Homo sapiens: one gene and its partners. The protein of the gene in region 1 purifies or fractionates together with the protein of each later gene. This does not show direct contact. Each region holds a gene or a part of one and is shown on either strand. Other genes may lie near its edges. The genes, in order: ISM2, LRCH4, PEX1 and RSPRY1.

What was found.
Region 2: the proteins of ISM2 (region 1) and LRCH4 purify together in Homo sapiens (affinity purification with mass spectrometry; one large-scale study listed by BioGRID and IntAct). This does not show direct contact.
Region 3: the proteins of ISM2 (region 1) and PEX1 purify together in Homo sapiens (affinity purification with mass spectrometry; one large-scale study listed by BioGRID and IntAct). This does not show direct contact.
Region 4: the proteins of ISM2 (region 1) and RSPRY1 purify together in Homo sapiens (affinity purification with mass spectrometry; one large-scale study listed by BioGRID and IntAct). This does not show direct contact.

Annotation. Positions count from the first base shown.
Region 1 is NC_000014.9:77,474,417-77,478,914, reverse strand, and holds part of ISM2 (isthmin-2 isoform 1 precursor), read left to right. Parts: intron 1-199; coding exon 200-340; intron 341-589; coding exon 590-673; intron 674-2,802; coding exon 2,803-3,320; 3' UTR 3,321-4,498.
Region 2 is NC_000007.14:100,579,205-100,583,702, reverse strand, and holds part of LRCH4 (leucine-rich repeat and calponin homology domain-containing protein 4), read left to right. Parts: intron 1-1,243; coding exon 1,244-1,388; intron 1,389-1,535; coding exon 1,536-1,662; intron 1,663-1,820; coding exon 1,821-1,926; intron 1,927-4,498. UniProt on the Homo sapiens protein: Accessory protein that regulates signaling by multiple TLRs, acting as a broad-spanning regulator of the innate immune response. In macrophages, binds LPS and promotes proper docking of LPS in lipid raft membrane. May be required for lipid raft maintenance.
Region 3 is NC_000007.14:92,485,841-92,490,834, forward strand, and holds the end of PEX1 (peroxisomal ATPase PEX1), read right to left. Parts: intron 4,072-4,994; coding exon 3,874-4,071; intron 3,584-3,873; coding exon 3,453-3,583; intron 1,702-3,452; coding exon 1,617-1,701; 3' UTR 1,185-1,616; downstream 1-1,184. UniProt on the Homo sapiens protein: Component of the PEX1-PEX6 AAA ATPase complex, a protein dislocase complex that mediates the ATP-dependent extraction of the PEX5 receptor from peroxisomal membranes, an essential step for PEX5 recycling.
Region 4 is NC_000016.10:57,206,235-57,210,328, forward strand, and holds part of RSPRY1 (RING finger and SPRY domain-containing protein 1 isoform 1 precursor), read left to right. Parts: intron 1-1,358; coding exon of another isoform or gene 1,359-1,451; intron 1,452-1,823; coding exon 1,824-1,876; intron 1,877-2,840; coding exon 2,841-2,953; intron 2,954-4,094.

The DNA of each region.
Region 1 (4,498 bases):
TTTGCACAGGTTATTCACTGCAGAAGGGAATCCAGTTGAGGGAGCAGGTGGAAGCTGAAATCCAGCCCAGCTTCATTCATGAGGCTGGAAGCCCTGGCATGGGCTGCATCCACCTGAGGAAAGGGTGCCCTGTGCTGATTTGTACCAATTTGCCCTGTGAGCTATATGCACTCACCCCCAACTCCCTGTCTTAACCCAGACTATGAGCCTCAGAAGGAGTGGAGTCCCTGGTCTCCCTGCAGTGGGAACTGCAGCACTGGCAAGCAGCAGAGGACTCGGCCCTGTGGCTATGGCTGCACTGCCACCGAGACCCGTACCTGTGACCTGCCCTCCTGTCCTGGTGAGATGAGCCCCTACCCCTGCATAGGAGTGGCTGGTGCGGCTTAGGCTGGAGGCTTGGTCCCCTGGGAATGTGGGTGGGCTTGGGAGATGGGATGCAGGAAGCTCAAAAACATGGTGGTCCTGCCTTGTCCCAGGCCTATTTTGGCTGCTGTGGGCACTGAGAGCCTATTGAGGTGGGGGGGTTTCCCCATCAGCGGCACTGAGGTGGCCTGCGGAGCCACCAGCCTGGCCTCCTTTCCTCCCAAAGGCACTGAGGACAAGGACACCTTGGGCCTCCCCAGTGAGGAGTGGAAGCTCCTGGCCCGCAATGCTACGGACATGCATGATCAAGGTGAGTGAGGGGCTAGGCTTGCCCCTGGTGGTTTGGGGAACGAGCTCTCAGGGGAGGGTGGGGTATTATTCCATGGCAGGAACCTGGCTTCTTTCCACTAGGCAGAGAGCACAGCTTCCATCTGGAAGGTTTGCTTCTCCAACAGGGGGCCCTGGCATTTCTGAGCCAGCTCATTGGCCTTTCTCAGACTGGTATTCCTACTGGGAAGGTCTTAATGGGAGCGGCAGAGCTTAGAGATCATCTGGTGGGGGCATATCCTATCCTCCCTGGCAGCAGGATAGGGTGGGGACGTTCTGACTTCCATTCCTTGGTTACTCTTGGGAGGCTCCTGGGCAGGCTCTGTCTGGAGAGGGGGATGCAGTGCAGTCAGAAATGGGTCAGTGTGCAGAACTCCAGCATTGCTCCTCCAGGCAGCTGGGCATGGGGCAGGCGTCCACCTGCACACTCTGAGTCTGTGTCTGTTGGTCTTACTTGCACCCTGCAAGGAAGGCAGGGAGACCAACCTTGCAGATAAGGGTTGCACTCAGCACAGCAAGAGCCTACTGAGCCTGCATCATGTGCCTGGCCATGGTGCTGGCACAGGGGATGTCAGCAGCCTGAGGCTTGGTCCATGTCCTCAAGGAGCTCAGGTCCCATGGGGGAAAGACACGCATAACCCATGTGAGCACTGCACTGCAAAGAAGGCCCTAAAGATTTGGGAGCAGAGAGGAAGGAGCAGTTTGTTTTCTGGTACAGGGGTGGGCCTGGGAAATGTGTGTCTCTTCCCCTCTCCTGTGTTACCATTTCCCAGGCTCCTCCTTCACTCCCAGTCAAAACCCAAATCCCAGCATCTGGATCCTGGGGAAGGTTCCAGTCCCTTGGAGATGTGCAGAGCCTCAAACTATCAAAGTCAGTCCCCCAGTGTCCGGGGCTGGACAGCTCATCCCATTAGGATGAGGGCACAGAAGGGAAAATGAGAAACAAGACCCGGTTAACAGCATCCACTCAGGCAGATTCTGGGGAGTGAGGAGCAAGGTTCTGCACATTCCCACGTGGCCAGCCGCCCAAGGCCATTTTTCTTCTTTCTGCTGTTCCCTGGTGACTGCAGTGTTTTCCCCTTCCCTGCTCGCTGCAGGGCTCTGGTGAGTCTGGGGGGCACCTCTTTCTGGTTTATGAAGGCTCCTGGCCTCTGCTGCACTGTGCCATGGGGACCGGGTGAAATGGTGAGACAGAGTCTTGCTCTGTCACCCAGGCTGGAGTGCAGTGGTGTGATCTCAGCTCACTGCAACCTCCACCTCCTGGGTTCAAGTGATTCTCATGTCTCAGCCTCCCGAGTAGCTGGGATTACAGGCATGCGCCACCAAGCCCGGCTAATTTCTGTATTTTTTGTAGAGACGGGACTTTGCCATGTTGGCCAGGCTGGTCTTGAGCTCCTACCTCCTGCCTTGGCCTCTAGAAGTGCTGAGATTACAGGCGTGAGCCATCGCGCCTGGCCCCCCAGCTCTTCTATTTAAGAGAACCTCAGTCAGATGTACTTTAGCCTCAGGTTTTTGTTTTGAGGGATATAATTTATTTTAAAATTAAATAAAAATATAGTTTAAAAAAAGGCCACGTTTCCCGAGGTGGAGATGGGGAGGAGAGCAGCATAGACAGAGGGGGCCACAGGAGGCCCAAAGTGGCCAAATGACTCACCCCAGGCCAGATTGCCTGAGAAAGGCAGCGTTCAGAACAAGAATGGTCCAGTGGCTAAAATAATGAAACCTTCTTACCAGTTGGTGAAAAGCTGCTGTACCTGTCTCCACTCACCCCAGATCCTTTTCCAAGATCTCAGGATCTTTCCCACCATTCAGCACATGACACCTAAACCTTTCCCACCATTCAGCATGTGACATATGGCACCGCAGAGGACATCTGGGTCATTGCTCCAGCCCCTTGGCCTGTGTCTGTTCTGAGCAAGAGCTTCTTGCTTCAGGTTGTCTGGATGGTGTGGGGTAGCCTCTCTCCATCCCCAAGGCCCTACCAAGCCACGCCTTTGCACCAGCTGGGGCCTGGGCCTTCTCTCCCCATGCACTGGCCCTTAATCAGTCCCCGCCCCACACGGGCCTGGCTCTGTCACTGGCTTCCCTCCTGCACTTTGTGGCCCTTTGCAGATGTGGACAGCTGTGAGAAGTGGCTGAACTGCAAGAGCGACTTCCTAATCAAGTATCTGAGCCAGATGCTGCGGGACCTGCCCAGCTGCCCGTGTGCCTACCCACTGGAGGCCATGGACAGCCCTGTGAGCCTACAGGACGAGCACCAGGGCCGCAGCTTCCGGTGGAGGGATGCCAGTGGCCCTCGCGAGCGCCTGGACATCTACCAGCCCACGGCGCGCTTCTGCCTGCGTTCCATGCTGTCTGGGGAGAGCAGCACACTGGCCGCCCAGCACTGCTGCTATGACGAGGACAGCCGGCTGCTGACCCGTGGCAAGGGCGCCGGCATGCCCAACCTCATCAGCACCGACTTCTCACCTAAGCTGCACTTCAAGTTCGACACGACGCCCTGGATCCTGTGCAAGGGGGACTGGAGCCGCCTCCACGCTGTGCTCCCTCCCAACAACGGCCGAGCCTGCACCGACAACCCCCTGGAGGAGGAGTACCTAGCACAGTTGCAGGAGGCCAAGGAGTACTAGTGACGGGGTTGCTGAACAGACACTGCAGGGAGAGGGCAGGCGGCTGCTGCTGTTGCACGGGAGAACTTTCCTCACCCGCCCCTGCCCAGACAGGGTGAGGAAAGGGCTCCCCCAGTGAGGTTGGTCCGAGGCTGTGTGCCCTCTGCCAGCGACCCCGAAGCAGATATCTCAGTGGGGTTAGTGAGAAGGTTGAAGGGTATGTAGGGCCCAGGGTGGGTGTCCCTGGGAGCCCTGGAAATGTGCATATGTGCATGTGTCTGCCGGGGCCTCCCTCTGCTGCCTGCTGGGACCCTGGCCACTCATTTTTCTCCTCCTTGGGAGCTGGGCTCTTCTGCCCTGGCTCTGCACATAAGTGTTAGCCAGCAGCTCCAGAAAAATCCCGATTCCCGGGATCTGCCACGAGTCACTCCTACTCCACCCTGATGGCCAGCAGAGGAAGGGCCACTCTTCTCATGGGCACAGCCATCCTTTGCCGGGGGGGGCATCCAGCCTGGGTGGCCACCCCTCCTTATCTCTGGGTGGTGCACATGCCCTTCTTTCCCCACTCCCTGCCACGAGCCACTGCACAGGAGGCTATCTGTAGCCCCAAGCTGCCTTTCTGTTGGACACCAACTTTAGTCTTGGGCTGCAAGCCAGCCCAGCTGAGGCGAAGTGGACTCCAGGCAGGGAATGGGTTGCCCAATTCTGGTCCCTTTCCTTTGCTCAGCCCCCTCTGTTCTGCTGATTGTAGGGATGTGCAGGGCTGGGAGTTGGCACTCCCCCCGAGTGGGGAGGTGACAGCTTGTCACAGTAGCCAGGCTTGGGTGGGTTCAGCACTAGCTCGGGACGGTGTGTCACACGTCTATAGTAAACCAGTTCTCTGGGAGGGGAAAAAAGCCCTGATTTATTGCATTTGGGCAGCTTCTGTGGTGTAAATTCTCCCAGCAGTGTCCCATGTCATGCTGCCAGCATCACTGAATGCACTGAACTCAGAGTTGGGAAGAGATGCACATAATCGCTCTCCCGGCACACCTCATGCCTCTTCCCTGCCTCCCCATTCCCCTGGCTGCACTTCCTTGCCTTCTATGGGGTTGAAATATTGAAGTCTCAACTGTCTCTGTTCACAAGAGCCACCAAAAGTTAGGGGACTTCAGTCCTAGCCCCCAGATGGCCGCCCTGAAGCTCTCTGGGCTCCTCAG
Region 2 (4,498 bases), on another chromosome or scaffold:
CTGGGCAGAGAGGAAGAGAAAGGGGTCCCGGGGCATCAGGCTGTCATCCACCCTGGTAAACACGGGGCCTACCAGAGCCAGAACCTGACAGATTGTTTCTACTTCATTTCCTGTCACAAGACTCATTTCCTTGGGGGATATACCCGGCTTCTCTCCTCTGCTTGCTTTTGCTGGCCTGCCCTTCCCTGAGAAGGGCCCTTGGAGAAGCTCACCAGGTCTGTGGCCTGGGACTCCGCCTCGCGGGCCCTGGGCCCCTCCCAGGACAGGCTGGGCCGAGGAAACAGAAAGGCAGGCTTCTCCAGGTCTAAGCCGTTAGTGGGTCCGTGCTACAGGGAATCCCAAGGCTGCCAGCCTCCGCATAGCAAGGCAGTGCTCCAGATAAGAGGGCGATTGTAGACCCCAGGCCCTCCCACACTCTCCACCCTCGCCGTGCCTGAGATGCTCACACAGTTGCTGATCTCTTGAAGTCTGTGTCAGTAAGAGAGGAAGCAGAGCCGGGCTGCTAGGGCTAGCAGAGGGTAGGAAGGATGCCTGCCCTGGGCCAGAGAAGCCCAGATGGGAGGGACCTGGGAACTCCAGCTCCCATCTCCAACCAGGTCTTCTTGCCCTTCCCTCCCAGCCCTTGGGAATCAGTAACTTTATGATTCTTTGGACCTGGCTTGCTGGTCCTTGGGGCTGGCGAAAAACTCGTCCGGTGTCGGGGACTTTATCTCTAGAACCAAGATAGAGTGACCTGTGGTTTTTCCCGTGTTGAAAACACACTGGAGTAGGGAAGAAGGGCCCCGAGGAGGGATGGGCACTCCCTGTGGTTTGCCCCAGGGGTTTCCCATCTTCCCTCCGGGAGCCCCCCAGCCCCTCGCCTTACTGTTTTCCCATGAGCACTGACCCCTCCTCTCACCTTCGGTCCTCCGCCTCACCTGGCATCTCTGAACAGGAACCACAGGAGTTAGAGATTCCAGCTGCTCTCCAGGATAGCCCTCCATTGACATTCCCCAACCCCCAAGTCTGAGGCTTCTCTAGCCCAGTGACGCTAAGGCCTTTGCCTTCCCTGTGCCATTCTGGTCACGCCTGGAATGTGCTCCCGTTGGCAGAAGGCTTTGTTATCTCTCCTGGGAGGCCACATTGATGGCCTTGAATCTTTAGGTGTGGAGGTGAGGGAGTGGGCAGCCGGCTCTGGGGGGACTGAAGGTCCTGTCCGGGCTGGGCCTTTCCGCAACTCTCCCCGACACCTCCTTTTCCCCAGACCTGTCCCGGAACCGGTTTCCCGAGGTGCCCGAGGCGGCGTGCCAGCTGGTGTCCCTGGAGGGCCTGAGCCTCTACCACAATTGCCTGAGATGCCTGAACCCAGCCTTGGGGAATCTCACAGCCCTCACCTACCTCAACCTCAGGTAGGGAGGCCGAGCCAGGGCCACGTGGGAGCGTGTGCTTCTCAGTCTCAAGTACTACTGAGTGACCCACCCAGTGACCCCGAGAGGATGGCAGTGCTGGGATGCCATGCCTGGGGAGCCAGTCCGCTGCCTTTCTCCCTTCCACAGCCGAAACCAGCTGTCGCTGCTGCCACCCTACATCTGCCAGCTGCCCCTGAGGGTCCTCATCGTCAGCAACAACAAGCTGGGAGCCCTGCCCCCTGACATCGGCACCCTGGGAAGCCTGCGACAGCTTGTGAGGATGGGGACGGGACCAGGAAAGGGACCCCTGAGCCAGGCAGCGGGACCTTCTAGGGGGAGGTTGGGGAGGGCCTGGAGCAAAGACAGAGATGGGAGGGTGGGTTCTGCTGGGCCTGGTCTCATGGCCCCTTCCCACTGCCTTCCTGATACCAGGACGTGAGCAGCAACGAGCTCCAATCCCTGCCCTCGGAACTGTGTGGCCTCTCTTCCCTGCGGGACCTCAATGTCCGGAGGAACCAGCTCAGTACGCTGCCCGAAGGTGAGAAGAATGAAGAACTGGAGAGGAGGTGTTTGTATGTGCGTCCCAGTTGGCTCAGGCTGCGGTAACGAAAACACTGCAGACCGGGTAGCTTATACATGGCAGGCATTCATTTTTCACAGTTCTGGAAGCTGAAGTTCAGGATCTGGGTGCTTCCATGGTCAGCTTCTGGCAGGGTGCTTTTCCTGGCTGCAGACTGCCGGCTCCTTGTGGTACTCTCCGATGGCGGAGAGCAGAGACAGCCCTCTGGGGCCTCTTTGATAAAGGAGCACAAATCTCACTGATGAGGGCTCCACCCTCATGATCTCAATTACTTCCCTAAGGCCTCGCTTCCTAATCCCATCACTTTGGGGGTTAGGATTTCAGCAGAGGACTTTTTGGGTGACACATTTCAGTCCATAACAGTGTATGTGCTTTGAAGAAGTTACAGGCCAGGAATCTTCAGAGGAGAATTACACCTTCATTGTCCAGGCTTTTGCAGTATATAAAACAAACTGTAAACGATCTGATTTGATCTTGACCTAGCAACCCTCTGATGCTGGCAGGGCGCAGATGAGCAGCTGTGTTAGAAACGTGGACACAGGCACAGAAGGGGAGCTGGTGGGTGCATCAGCTCTAGGTAGACTGGCAAGGTCAGAAGGGGCCTTCAAGGTCACCCAGCAGCCCTGCTCACCCCAGCAGGGGCTCTCAAACACCTGAGTCGGGATGCTCCGCCACTCCTCCCGGAGATGCCAGGGCCAGTGCCAGAGCCCAGGTGGCCCATCTAATGTGCTTGTTGTGATGCACTGATAGCCTCTGCCCCAAAGCAGGCATGCCTTTTGTTCAGCAGGCAGCAGCATGTGTGTGTGTCTGTGTGTGTTATGTCTTGTGTCTGCGTGCATGTGTGTGTCTGTGTGTATGTATGTGTTTGTGTATGTGTGTGTTGTGTCTGTGCATGTGTCTGTGTGTCTGTGCATGTGTGTCTATGTGCATGTGTATGTGTGTCTGTGTCTGTTCGTGTGTTGTGTTTATGTCTGTGTTATTTATGTCGTGTGTGTGCGTGTGTATGTTTGTGTGTCTGTGTTTGTGTGTGTGTTGTGTTTATGTCTGTGTTATGTCGTGTGTGTCTGTGCATGTGTATGTGTGTTTGTGTCTGTGTGTGTCTTTGTGTGTGTGTTTGTGTTTATGTCTGTTGTGTGTGTTTAGGTCTGTGTTGTGTGTGTTGTATGTGTTGTGTGTGTTTGGGTGTGTGTTGTGTGGGTTGTGTGTATGTGTTGTGTATGTTTATGTGTGTGTTGTGCATGTTGTTTGTGTCTGTGTGTATGTATGTTGTTTGCGTGTGTGTGGGTTTTGTGTGTGTGTGTGTGTGTGTGTGTGTGTGTGTGTGTGTGTGATGTGTGTATGATTCCTGTGTTGGGATCAGGTAGATGCGGGTGATGTGACTAAGATCTGGGGCCATCTCTTAGGGATTTAATGGCTTCTTGAGGAGAGACAGTCATAGGGAAGTTCCGTCAGGGGGTTCCCCAGACGGGGGCTAGAGGGAGGTGGCACTGGACTCTGCGTGGGGGTCCTGGGGAAGACTTCACCGGAGGCGCAGGCGCAGTGGGAGCCGAACATTGAAGGAGAATTCCCCAGCCTTCTGCATCCAGGCAGAGGACCCAGCATGTGCAAAGCATGGGGTTAGGAAGGTGAGCCAGGCATGGCAGGAAGGCCTGTGCCATGCTCAAGTGTGAACTTGGTTTTGAAGAACAAGGAGGGAGTGAGGTGGTCATCCACTTTCCCTGTCTCCCTACTCCCTGACCCTTTCTGCACCTGCCCTCTTCCTTCCCAGTCAAAAGGGGTAGGAAGGGCTCTCTCTGGGCCATAAAAAGAAATCCAAGCAAGATGTCCTGGGGACAGAGGCAAGAGCAATGAGTTCCATCCAATCTGGGATGTCTGGAACGATCCACCGAGGAGGTGGTGATGCTTGAGCTGAACCTTGAAAGATGCATGGATGGGGAAAATGGAGTTCTCCCAGCTGAGCAAACAGCACCTGGGAAGGCTCAGAAGCTGAGGGCCCGGAGGGGTGGGCAGTGAGGTGGGAAACGCGGGTGGAGCCAGGTTGTGGAAGCCTTCCTCATGCTGGGTTAGGGAGCTGTGGGTTTTATTCTGTGCTTAGGGCCGCCATGAATCCAGACTGTGCCTTTTTTTTTTTTTTTTTTGAGACAGAGTCTCGCTCTGTCACCCAGGCTGGAGTGCAGTGGCGCAATCTCGGCTCACTGCAAGCTCCGCCTCCCAGGTTCACGCCATTCTCCTGCCTCAGCCTCCCAAGTAGCTGGGACCACAGGCGTCCGCCACCACACCCGGCTAATTTTTTGTATTTTTAGTAAAGACAGGTTTTCACCATGTTAGCCAGGGTGGTCTCAATCTCTTGACCTTGTGATCCACCCGCCTTGGCCTCCCAAATTGCTGGGATTACAGGCGTGAGCCACCGTGCCGGTCCCAGACTGTGCCTTTTTAAGATGAGCAAAAGGCACCTTTCCCTGTGGGCAGGCAGCATTTCATGCAGGGTGCAGTGCTGGGCCCGTGCTGGGGAAAGGGGACTCCCGGGCGG
Region 3 (4,994 bases), on another chromosome or scaffold:
TAACCAGATGACCAGAAATTTGGAAAGAACACAACTGGGTATGAGGTCTGGAGGAAAAGTATGCCCAGAGTTCTTGGAATGGGCCCAAAGAATCAGAATATTTGTGTCCTATGTGAATGCTCAGTTAAAAGCCTTCAGTGCTTATACTAATCAAGTGGTCAAGATGACCTCTGTATGGATGTCAATCGGCTGTCTTTTCCAGCCACCCCAGTGCTTAAGATTCATGGTCAAATTGGCCAAGAGTGCAGGGATGTGGCCTCCACAATGTGGACTTCCCCCTCACCACAGCTGACATGACAACCCAGCTATATTGACAGCCTACTTGTCAGCAGCAGTGACCAACCAGGCAAGTCCACACCCAGGAGAGAACAGCCCAAGTCTGACGGCAGGTTGATTACATCTGATCCTCTTCTATCACAGAGCAGGCAGCAATTTGTCCTTCCTGGAGGGGACACACCTTGGAATTGTATTTGTTTTGTATGTTCTCCAAATTTTTACCACCACCACCCTTCATGAACTTACTAAATGGTTTTTACATTGTTTGTTAGGCTATCCCATAGACATTGCTTCTGATCATGAAACTCACTTTATGGTGAAAAGAGGGCAGGTATGTCAGCTCAGTGATTTCATCAAAGAACTGAGAAACAAAGTGCAATGCAGGGTGACGTGTCTCAGTTTAATACTAGTGATCCACTAAGTCTTTGTTTCTATCCCCTGGGATTCTGAGCTTTGCTGGTTTAGAACCTTGAACCTCCTGGGAGCAAGTGATCCTCCTACCTCAGCCTCCCAAGTAGCTGGGACTAGAGGCATACCATCATGCATGGCTAATTTTTTTTTTAAGAGATGGGGTCTCACTATGTTGCCCAGGCTTACTTGTATATTTTAATTAATGTTCTCCTTTTTGCTGTTCCCTTACCCCATTACTATATAGTTAAGATATTAGATACGCAGATTGTATTGATGGTGGCTAACTTTATAATTTAGTTCATATATGAGAGAATATCAAGATAAAATCATAACTGGAACTAGGAGAGGAATGGATGTCATTTAAATATCTTGGGCTTGGAGCTGGATGTAGTATAGTAGAGGGATGTGATTTCATTTCTGGTTGAGCGGATAATTAAATGTATTTGAATTATGTGTAAATTTCACATTTTTTGATATACAAAGAACAGATAATTGTATCAGTAGGTAATAGGATATTTTATTTCAAAACAGTGAAGAAGCTGCTAAGCATAAAATTTGTCAAATGCTACAAAGGTGATGAATATACAACTGGGAATTCCAAGAAATTTAAATTTAATTACATTCTTTATTATCTTTTCCTCAAAAGAAATAAATTAGTTCCACCATTTGGCTAATATTATTTCATTAAAGACTGAATTTAGATTTTAGGAAATAAAATATGGAATCTGTTATAATGTCCCAATTTATACTACAGTATTAATCTCAATCCTGATCATTACATAATTATAGCATTTACCAATCTGTGATTTTATAAATTAACCAAATTTGTTAAATTAAGAAGAAATTCATAGACACCATTTTTTTCCTGTTACAACATATGGAAAAGCCATCAAAAAACTTAACAGAACCAAATCAAAAAGAAGTATATTTTATGCTAAAGTTACTTTCTGTCCAGGTCGAAACATTGTTCCACTTTGATTTTTTCTCCTCTTTGGATTTTGAAAGCTTTCATATCTGAAAAAAGAAAGAGATAATTTAATATGTATAAATACTACCATTACAAAACAAAAGATAATGGATTGTTGGCAAACACAATTATATTTTAAGAAATGAACGGGAAATAACAAACTAGAAAAAAAAATTCCAGTCACAGAAATTAAAAAGAATTCTTACAAATAAAGTTGCACTCCAATAGAAAACGGAGCAAAGGGGATGAAGAGACAAGTTAGAAAAGATAAAATACAAATGACAATGAATAATATGAAAAATTATAACTTCTACACTTTAATCAAAGAAATGTAAATTATTGATATCATTTTTCTAAAATCAAAAGGGCCAAGTTTAGAAAAATACTGCAACACACAATGTTAGTGATGGTGCAGTATATCTGGCAGGCAATTTGGCAATACATTTCAAAAGCCTTAAAAAATGTGAGCTCCCTGTTATACAATTCCACCTCTATCCTAGTGAAACAATTAGATATGTGCATATATTCAGCTGCAAGAATGTTCATTACCACATTGCCTGGGAGCAATTTAAATGTCTAAAAATTGGATATTGTGGCATAGCTACACTATAAAATGACATTTAAAAACAATAAAGTAGTTAACATTTAAAATGTAAAACAATTTTCAGGATGTATGTGGATAAAGGGGGACTGCTATATAGCAATATGTACAGACTGTTCTTACCATAATAGGAAAACATATATAAGCATATAAACAAATATGCTTTGGGAGGTGGTGGGCTTAACAGAAATTTGTTTCCTTATTTTTCCTTACCTCTGTTTTCTGATTCTTCTTTAATAAATACATAGCACTAACGTATGTACACATACATACATACTTCAAAGTACTGCAAAATTAGATAACAAAAGGTAGCAGCTTCTAAAGACCAGGAATAAACATCTCTTAAATTGAATCACACTGAATCATTGACCTAGAATGGTTCCCAGTCCATGGGTCTCAGATGCATAGGTGGCCATAAACTCAATTGCAAGGATCCTTTAAATCCAATGTATAACAAATGTGGTCCACAAATGAATAAATCTGAATGTATTTAAATGTTCTTGAGGTCAATAAAATATTAATATAAATTATTTTGAAGGCAAAACAGGTATTTTTATAACAAAATTTTATAAACTATACATTAGAATCACTTTCAACTTTTAATTTTCCTTCTTATTTCTTCGAAGTTACTAAATTTTTTTTTTTTTTTTTTGAGACACAGTCTCGCTCTGTGGCCCAGGCTGGATGGAGTGCAGTGGTGCAATCTCGGCTCACTGCAACCTCCACCTCCTGGGTTCAAGCAATTCTCCTGTCTCAGCCTCCCAAGTAGCTGGGACTACAGGCACATGCCACCACACCTGGCTAATTTTTGTATTTTTAGTAGAGATGGGGTTTCCCCGTGTTGGTTAGGCTTGCCTCGAACTCCTGACCTCAGGTGATCCACCTGCCTTGGCCTCCCAAAGAGCTGGGATTACAGGCATGAGCCACAGCACCCAGCCCAAAGTTACTAAAATTAAATGAGTCCATTATGAATAATTCAAATATAATCAAATGAACTGGTTAATGAAAACTCAATTTTGACTTCTGTACTTCTGACATTTTGGGGTTTTTTAATGCATAGCTACGACACATATTTTTTGAATTAGCTTTTAAATATTCAAAATATTTTTATTTTAAACACGAACTTTAAAGGTTTAAGTGTAATACTATGTCACTTGTAATAGTAGCTGTACTTCCAAAACAGAATCTGTTACTTACAGCTCAGCAAAATTCTTCCAGTCATCTTCACTAATGGATGGTCTTGTGTGACCAAGTGCAGTCATTAAATGTGACTGACTAATAGCCAGTCTGGTTTTGATTGGTCCTGGTTGGTTCATGGATTCGTCCTCCTTAAGTAAAAAAAGAAATTGACGAAGAGTTAAATTAAGGATGTAAAAAAAAATGTGGTAGTCCAGTTGTTACTTCTTATTGTCAGTTTTTTCAAGAGACCATACGTTCTCTTCCTTATAAGATAATGAAACATTGAAAGCAAGGAAGCACATAACCATGACTGAGTTAATGTGTTCTGGTCCCTTGTTTATAAATATAGCTCGTTTATAAGTCAAAGAAATATATATCAAAAGGGTGAAACAATTTTTAAGAAGTTTTAACAATTATAATGAGGGGGAAAAAGCCATACTCCACTTTGGCTCCGGTATCTGCCTTTGATAATACTGATATCTGCCCTCAGTTGATCTCTTTGTTCTTGTGTAAGTTCTTGGCAACCCTCTTGTGAAGCTGTCCTTAACACTGGAGGCTGTGAAAACAACTGGTCTTTCCCAGGAACTCCAGGCAAATCCTGAGTCATGGAGCTTGGTGCAGAGAGACATTGTGAGCTCTGCATGGTAAATTGTAGTAATGAAAGATGGAAGGAAGAGGGGGAGAGAAAAAACTATGTGTTTACCAAATATAAAAATTAAACATTTTAAGCAATAAAACATTAACATAGATAAGTATACATGTTAATTAACTGAAATTAAGCAAGCTGAAAAGTTGTTCATCTTTTATAAAGGTTCACTGATACCTGTGTTATAGAACCACCATCAAGTGAAAATTGCCATAACACAGGGTAGGTTTTTTTAACTTTGTTGCTTAAATCCAACACACTAATGCCCAAGGACAGGTTTCTTCATTTTCAGAAAGTAAAGTTATACTAAGTTTCTGGGACATTTCTAAATAGAATAAATTAAAAACAGAATTAAAGACTAAAATTAAACCACCACCTTACTGTTCTTGGGAATAAAAATGAATTGCTTTTATATTTTTAAAGTCTGAGTTAGGCTAGGCATAGTGGCTCACACCTGTAATCCTAGCACTTTGGGAGGTCAAGGCACGCAGATAGCTTGAGCCCAGGAGTTTGAGACCAGCCTGGGCAATATGGTGAAACCTCGTCTCTACAAAACATACAAAAATTAGCTGGGCATGGTGGCATGTGCCTGTAGTCCCAGCTACTCAGGAGGCTGAGGTGGAAGAATCACCTAAGCCCAGGAGGTCAAGGCTGCAGTGAGCCATAATTGTGCCACTGCACTCTAGTCTGGATGATAGAGTGAGACTGTCTCAAAAAAAAAAAAAAAAAAAAGCCTAAATTAATAAAGCAAATGTACAAAAAACCAGGAAACATATAGATAACCAAACACATGTACAGATGTTACATGTACCAATAAAATTACAGTGAACCACTATTAATTTTTAGAAGAGATGTTGAATGCTAGTAGAACAGTGATACTGCCCACATTTAATCAAAACACTTTCCTGTTGAAA
Region 4 (4,094 bases), on another chromosome or scaffold:
CTCTGCAAAAAAAATTTAAAAATTATCCAGGTACAGTGGCACTTGCCTGTGATCCCAGCTACTCAGGATTCTAAGACCGGAGTACTGCTAGAGTCCAGGAGTTTCCAGCTGCAGTGAGCTATGATCACACCACTGCACTCCAGCCTGGGCAATAGAGCAAGACCCTGTCTCAAAAATTAATTAATCAAAAAAAATTTTTTAAATCCCTTGTACCAAATTGTAATAAAAGTTATCCTTCCCAAATAAGGAAGTAAACCACAAACAATGTTAATTTAAGCTCATTGGAAAAATGGGTGCAGAATAGACTTTGAGAGAGAGAGTTTTTTTGTTTTGTTTTGTTTTTAAAGAGACAGGGTCTCACTTTGTCACCCAGGCTGGCGTACAGTGGCGTGATCATGACTCACTGCAGCCTCAGCCTCCTGGACTCAAACCATCCTCCCACCTCAGCCTCCTAAGTAGCTTGGACTACAGGCGTGTGCTACTGCACCTGGCTAATTTTTAAAAAAGTTTTTGTAGAGCCAGGTCTTGCCATGTTGCCCAGGCTGGTCTCAAATACCTGGACTCAAGCGATTGTCGAGCTTCAGCCTCCTTAAGTGCTGGGATTGCAGATGTGAGCCCCCACGCTTGGCCCCTTGCAATATTTTAAAAGAGAGTGACATAGTTATACAAACCTCTTTGTTTTTAACTTTTCTCAACATCGAAATCTGTGTTACTGTATATAAATCTACAACTGCTTCTGACTATTACAGAGTATTCCCTTGTATGCCTGAAAGTATTATATTTTGTTACATTTTCATCTGGTGATGGTCACTTAGGTTACTGCCAAATTTTTGTTCTTACAAACAGCACTGCAGTGAACAGCGCAAATATGCATTGATTTTTGGACCTGTGTAAAAATTTATCTACAACTGTTGGGTATATGCATACTTAATTTTATTATTGCCAGATCATTCTTCAGAAATACTTGCATCAGTCAATTATATTGTTTAAACAGGCAGCACCTAATGAGTACCTGAAATGACCATACTAATTCCCATATCACAAGGTTATTCTCTGGATTAAATGACTTAAGATGATAGTTTTTGGGGCTTTTTTTTTTTCCACACTAAAACAGAGACCCACAATATGTAAACAAATAAGTGGTGAGTTCTTAAGCAGTTAGAATTGTTTAATGGAAAACATCTCATTATTGAAGTTCCCCTGAAGGACTTTTTAAAGATTTCTGGGATCACACCACTGAATTAAGGTGTATAATGCCACTTTGGAGCAATGTCTAGAATGTTAAGTAGTTCCTTAAGTTTGGTTTTGTTTCTTGTAATACCATTTTATGAAGTCTAAGCATGTAGTGGTATTTCCAGAAGAAAACTTCAAAATGAAGATGCGTATATAGGCCCTTGCTTCCATAAGTCCTCAACCGGGATTGTCGTCTCTCTTCCTGGCATTTCTCTGAGGTAAGTATGAAGGTGATGTTGACCTTCCTGGCTTGTCTCAGTTGGCACTGGGCCTCTGAGTGTAAAGCTGAGAGTAGGCTGTGATCTCCAGTTTTACTCCTGTGCTTTTACCCCAGGACACATAGTAGTCTTTGTCTGTATCCACCTGCCCATTTTGTCTGTGGGTCATTGTGGACAGTGACTGGAAATGAGCACATATGGTATACATTCATCCTTACAGGTCATAGCTCAGGTTGTCTCTTCTATCTCTTTCCTTACATTTGTGTTCATTTCTTCTGTCCCTTTTTACCTCCACACCTCCAGTTTGAATTCTTATTTGGAATTGTCATTTATTATTTCCTCAGGTTTAATGCCTTGAATTTTTTTTTCCAGTGATCAGGAACCTCCCTATTCAATGATAACATTACACGAAATGGCAGAAACAGGTATTTTTAGTTTTGTTTTCATTACTTTATAATGAATATATAATAATGAAGAAAAGTAGCCACCTTTTGTTTTTTGTTTTGTTTTGTTTTGAGATAAAAGACTCCAAAAATACAGCATACATAACAATGAAAAAAGCCCTTACTGTATGGAAATTTCCCTGAATAGGTATAATAGGCAATGCATATTATACCTTTTTTTTTTTTTTTTTTTTTTTGGCATTGATGGATCTTTCACCATACTGTTCTGGAATGGAGAGGAGATTATTTATATATATATATATATATATATATTTTTTTTTTTTTTTGAGACAGAGTCTCACTCTGTTGCCCAGGCTGGAGTGCAGTGGCACGATCACAGCTCAACTACAGCCTCAACCTACCCTGGCCCAGGTGATCACCCCACCTCAGCTTCTCAAGTAGCTAGCACCACAGGCGCATGCCACAATACCCAGCAATTTTTCTGTTGTTTGTAGAGACAGAATTTCACCATGTTGGCCCAGCCTGGTCTTGTACTCCTGGGCTCAAGGGATCCTCCTGCCTCAGCCTCCCAAAGTGCTGGGATTACAGGTGTGAGCCACAGCCCCTGGCCAAAGATATTTTTTGTTCCTTAGTTTCCTAAGTATCATTCTGAAAACAAAGCCAACTGCTGAGTATACTTCATTTTCTCAGTTAACTCCTATGTAGTAAATAAGATGCTTAAAACTATTTTAATGTGAGAGCACAAGACCATAGCTTAACCTTTTTCCAAATAAAGGTACCCACAAATCACCAGACTCCTGTAACTTAAGATGTTTTTACTCCACCACGATGACTAGCAATTGATGATTATGTCCATGCCAAATATTAGCTGCTAAAAATCTATAGACCAAAAGTCTTTCTTTTAATGTGAATTGATCTCGTGTGACATATTTTCACATTTTAAAAATAGTGACTCCATCATATAATCTTCTTGATTTGCTCTTAGATGAAGGATGGTTGGATGTTGTCCAGTCTTTAATTAGAGTTATTCCACTGGAAGATCCACTGGGACCAGCTGTTATAACATTGTTACTAGATGAATGTCCATTGCCCACTAAAGTAAGTTAATACTTATCTTTTATGAAACTATCATTTGTGCTTAAGCACAAGATAAATGACCACAAAGAACATTTGATGTATTGTGTTTCATCTTTATACATTTGGGGTCTGTTTTATTCAGTATTGATTTTGTTATGTAAATTTATTTTGTATTATGAAGAATTATGTCCTCTTTTTTTTTCTTTTCCTCTTTGAGACAAGAGTCTCACTCTGTTGCCCAGGCTGGAGTGCAATGATGTGATCTTGGCTCACTGCAACCTCCGCCTCCCGGGTCCAAGCGATTCTCCTGCCTCAGCCTCCCAAGTAGCTGGGATTACAGGCACCCGCCACCACACCTGGCTGATTTTTGGATTTTTAGTAGAAACGGGATTTCACCATGTTGGCCAGGCTGGTCTTGAACTCCTGACCTCAGGTGATCCACCTGCCTCGGCCTCCTCCCAAAGTGCTGGGACTACAGGCATGAGCCACTGCACCCAGCCCTCTGTCTTTTTATTTATTTATTTTGAAACAGGGTCTCACTTTGTCACCCAGGCTGGCGTGCAGTAGAGCAATCACAGCTCACTGCAGCTGCAACCTCCCTAGGCTCAGGTGATCCTCCCACCTCAGCCTCCCATGTAGCTGGGACCATAGGTGCATGACCCCATGTCTGGCTAATTTTGTATTTTTTTTTAGAGATGGGGTTTCATCATGTTGCCCAGGCTGGTCTTGAAACTCCTGGGCTCAAGCAGTCAGCCCACCTCAGCCTCCCGAAGTGCTGGCATTGTAGGCGTTAGCCACTGTGCCCCGCCACATTCTCTATCAAGGCTTTATTTAATTGCTTTTTTTTCTTCTTTCTTTCTTTCCCTCCCTCCCTCCCTCCCTTCCTCCCTTCCTCCCTTCCTTCCTTCTTTCCTTCCCTTTCCTTCTTGCCTCCCTTCCTTCCCCGGCCCCGCCTAGGCTAGAGTGCAGTGGCACAGTCATGGCTCACTGTATCCTCAACCTCTCAGGTTCAAGTGATCCTCTTGCCTCAGCTTCCCATGTTGCTGGACTACAGGCATGCACCACCACACCTAGCTAAATTTTTTTTATTTTTTGTAGATAAAGGGTCTCACTATGTTGCCCAGGCTGATTTTGAACTCCTGGGCTCAAGGGATCCTCCCAC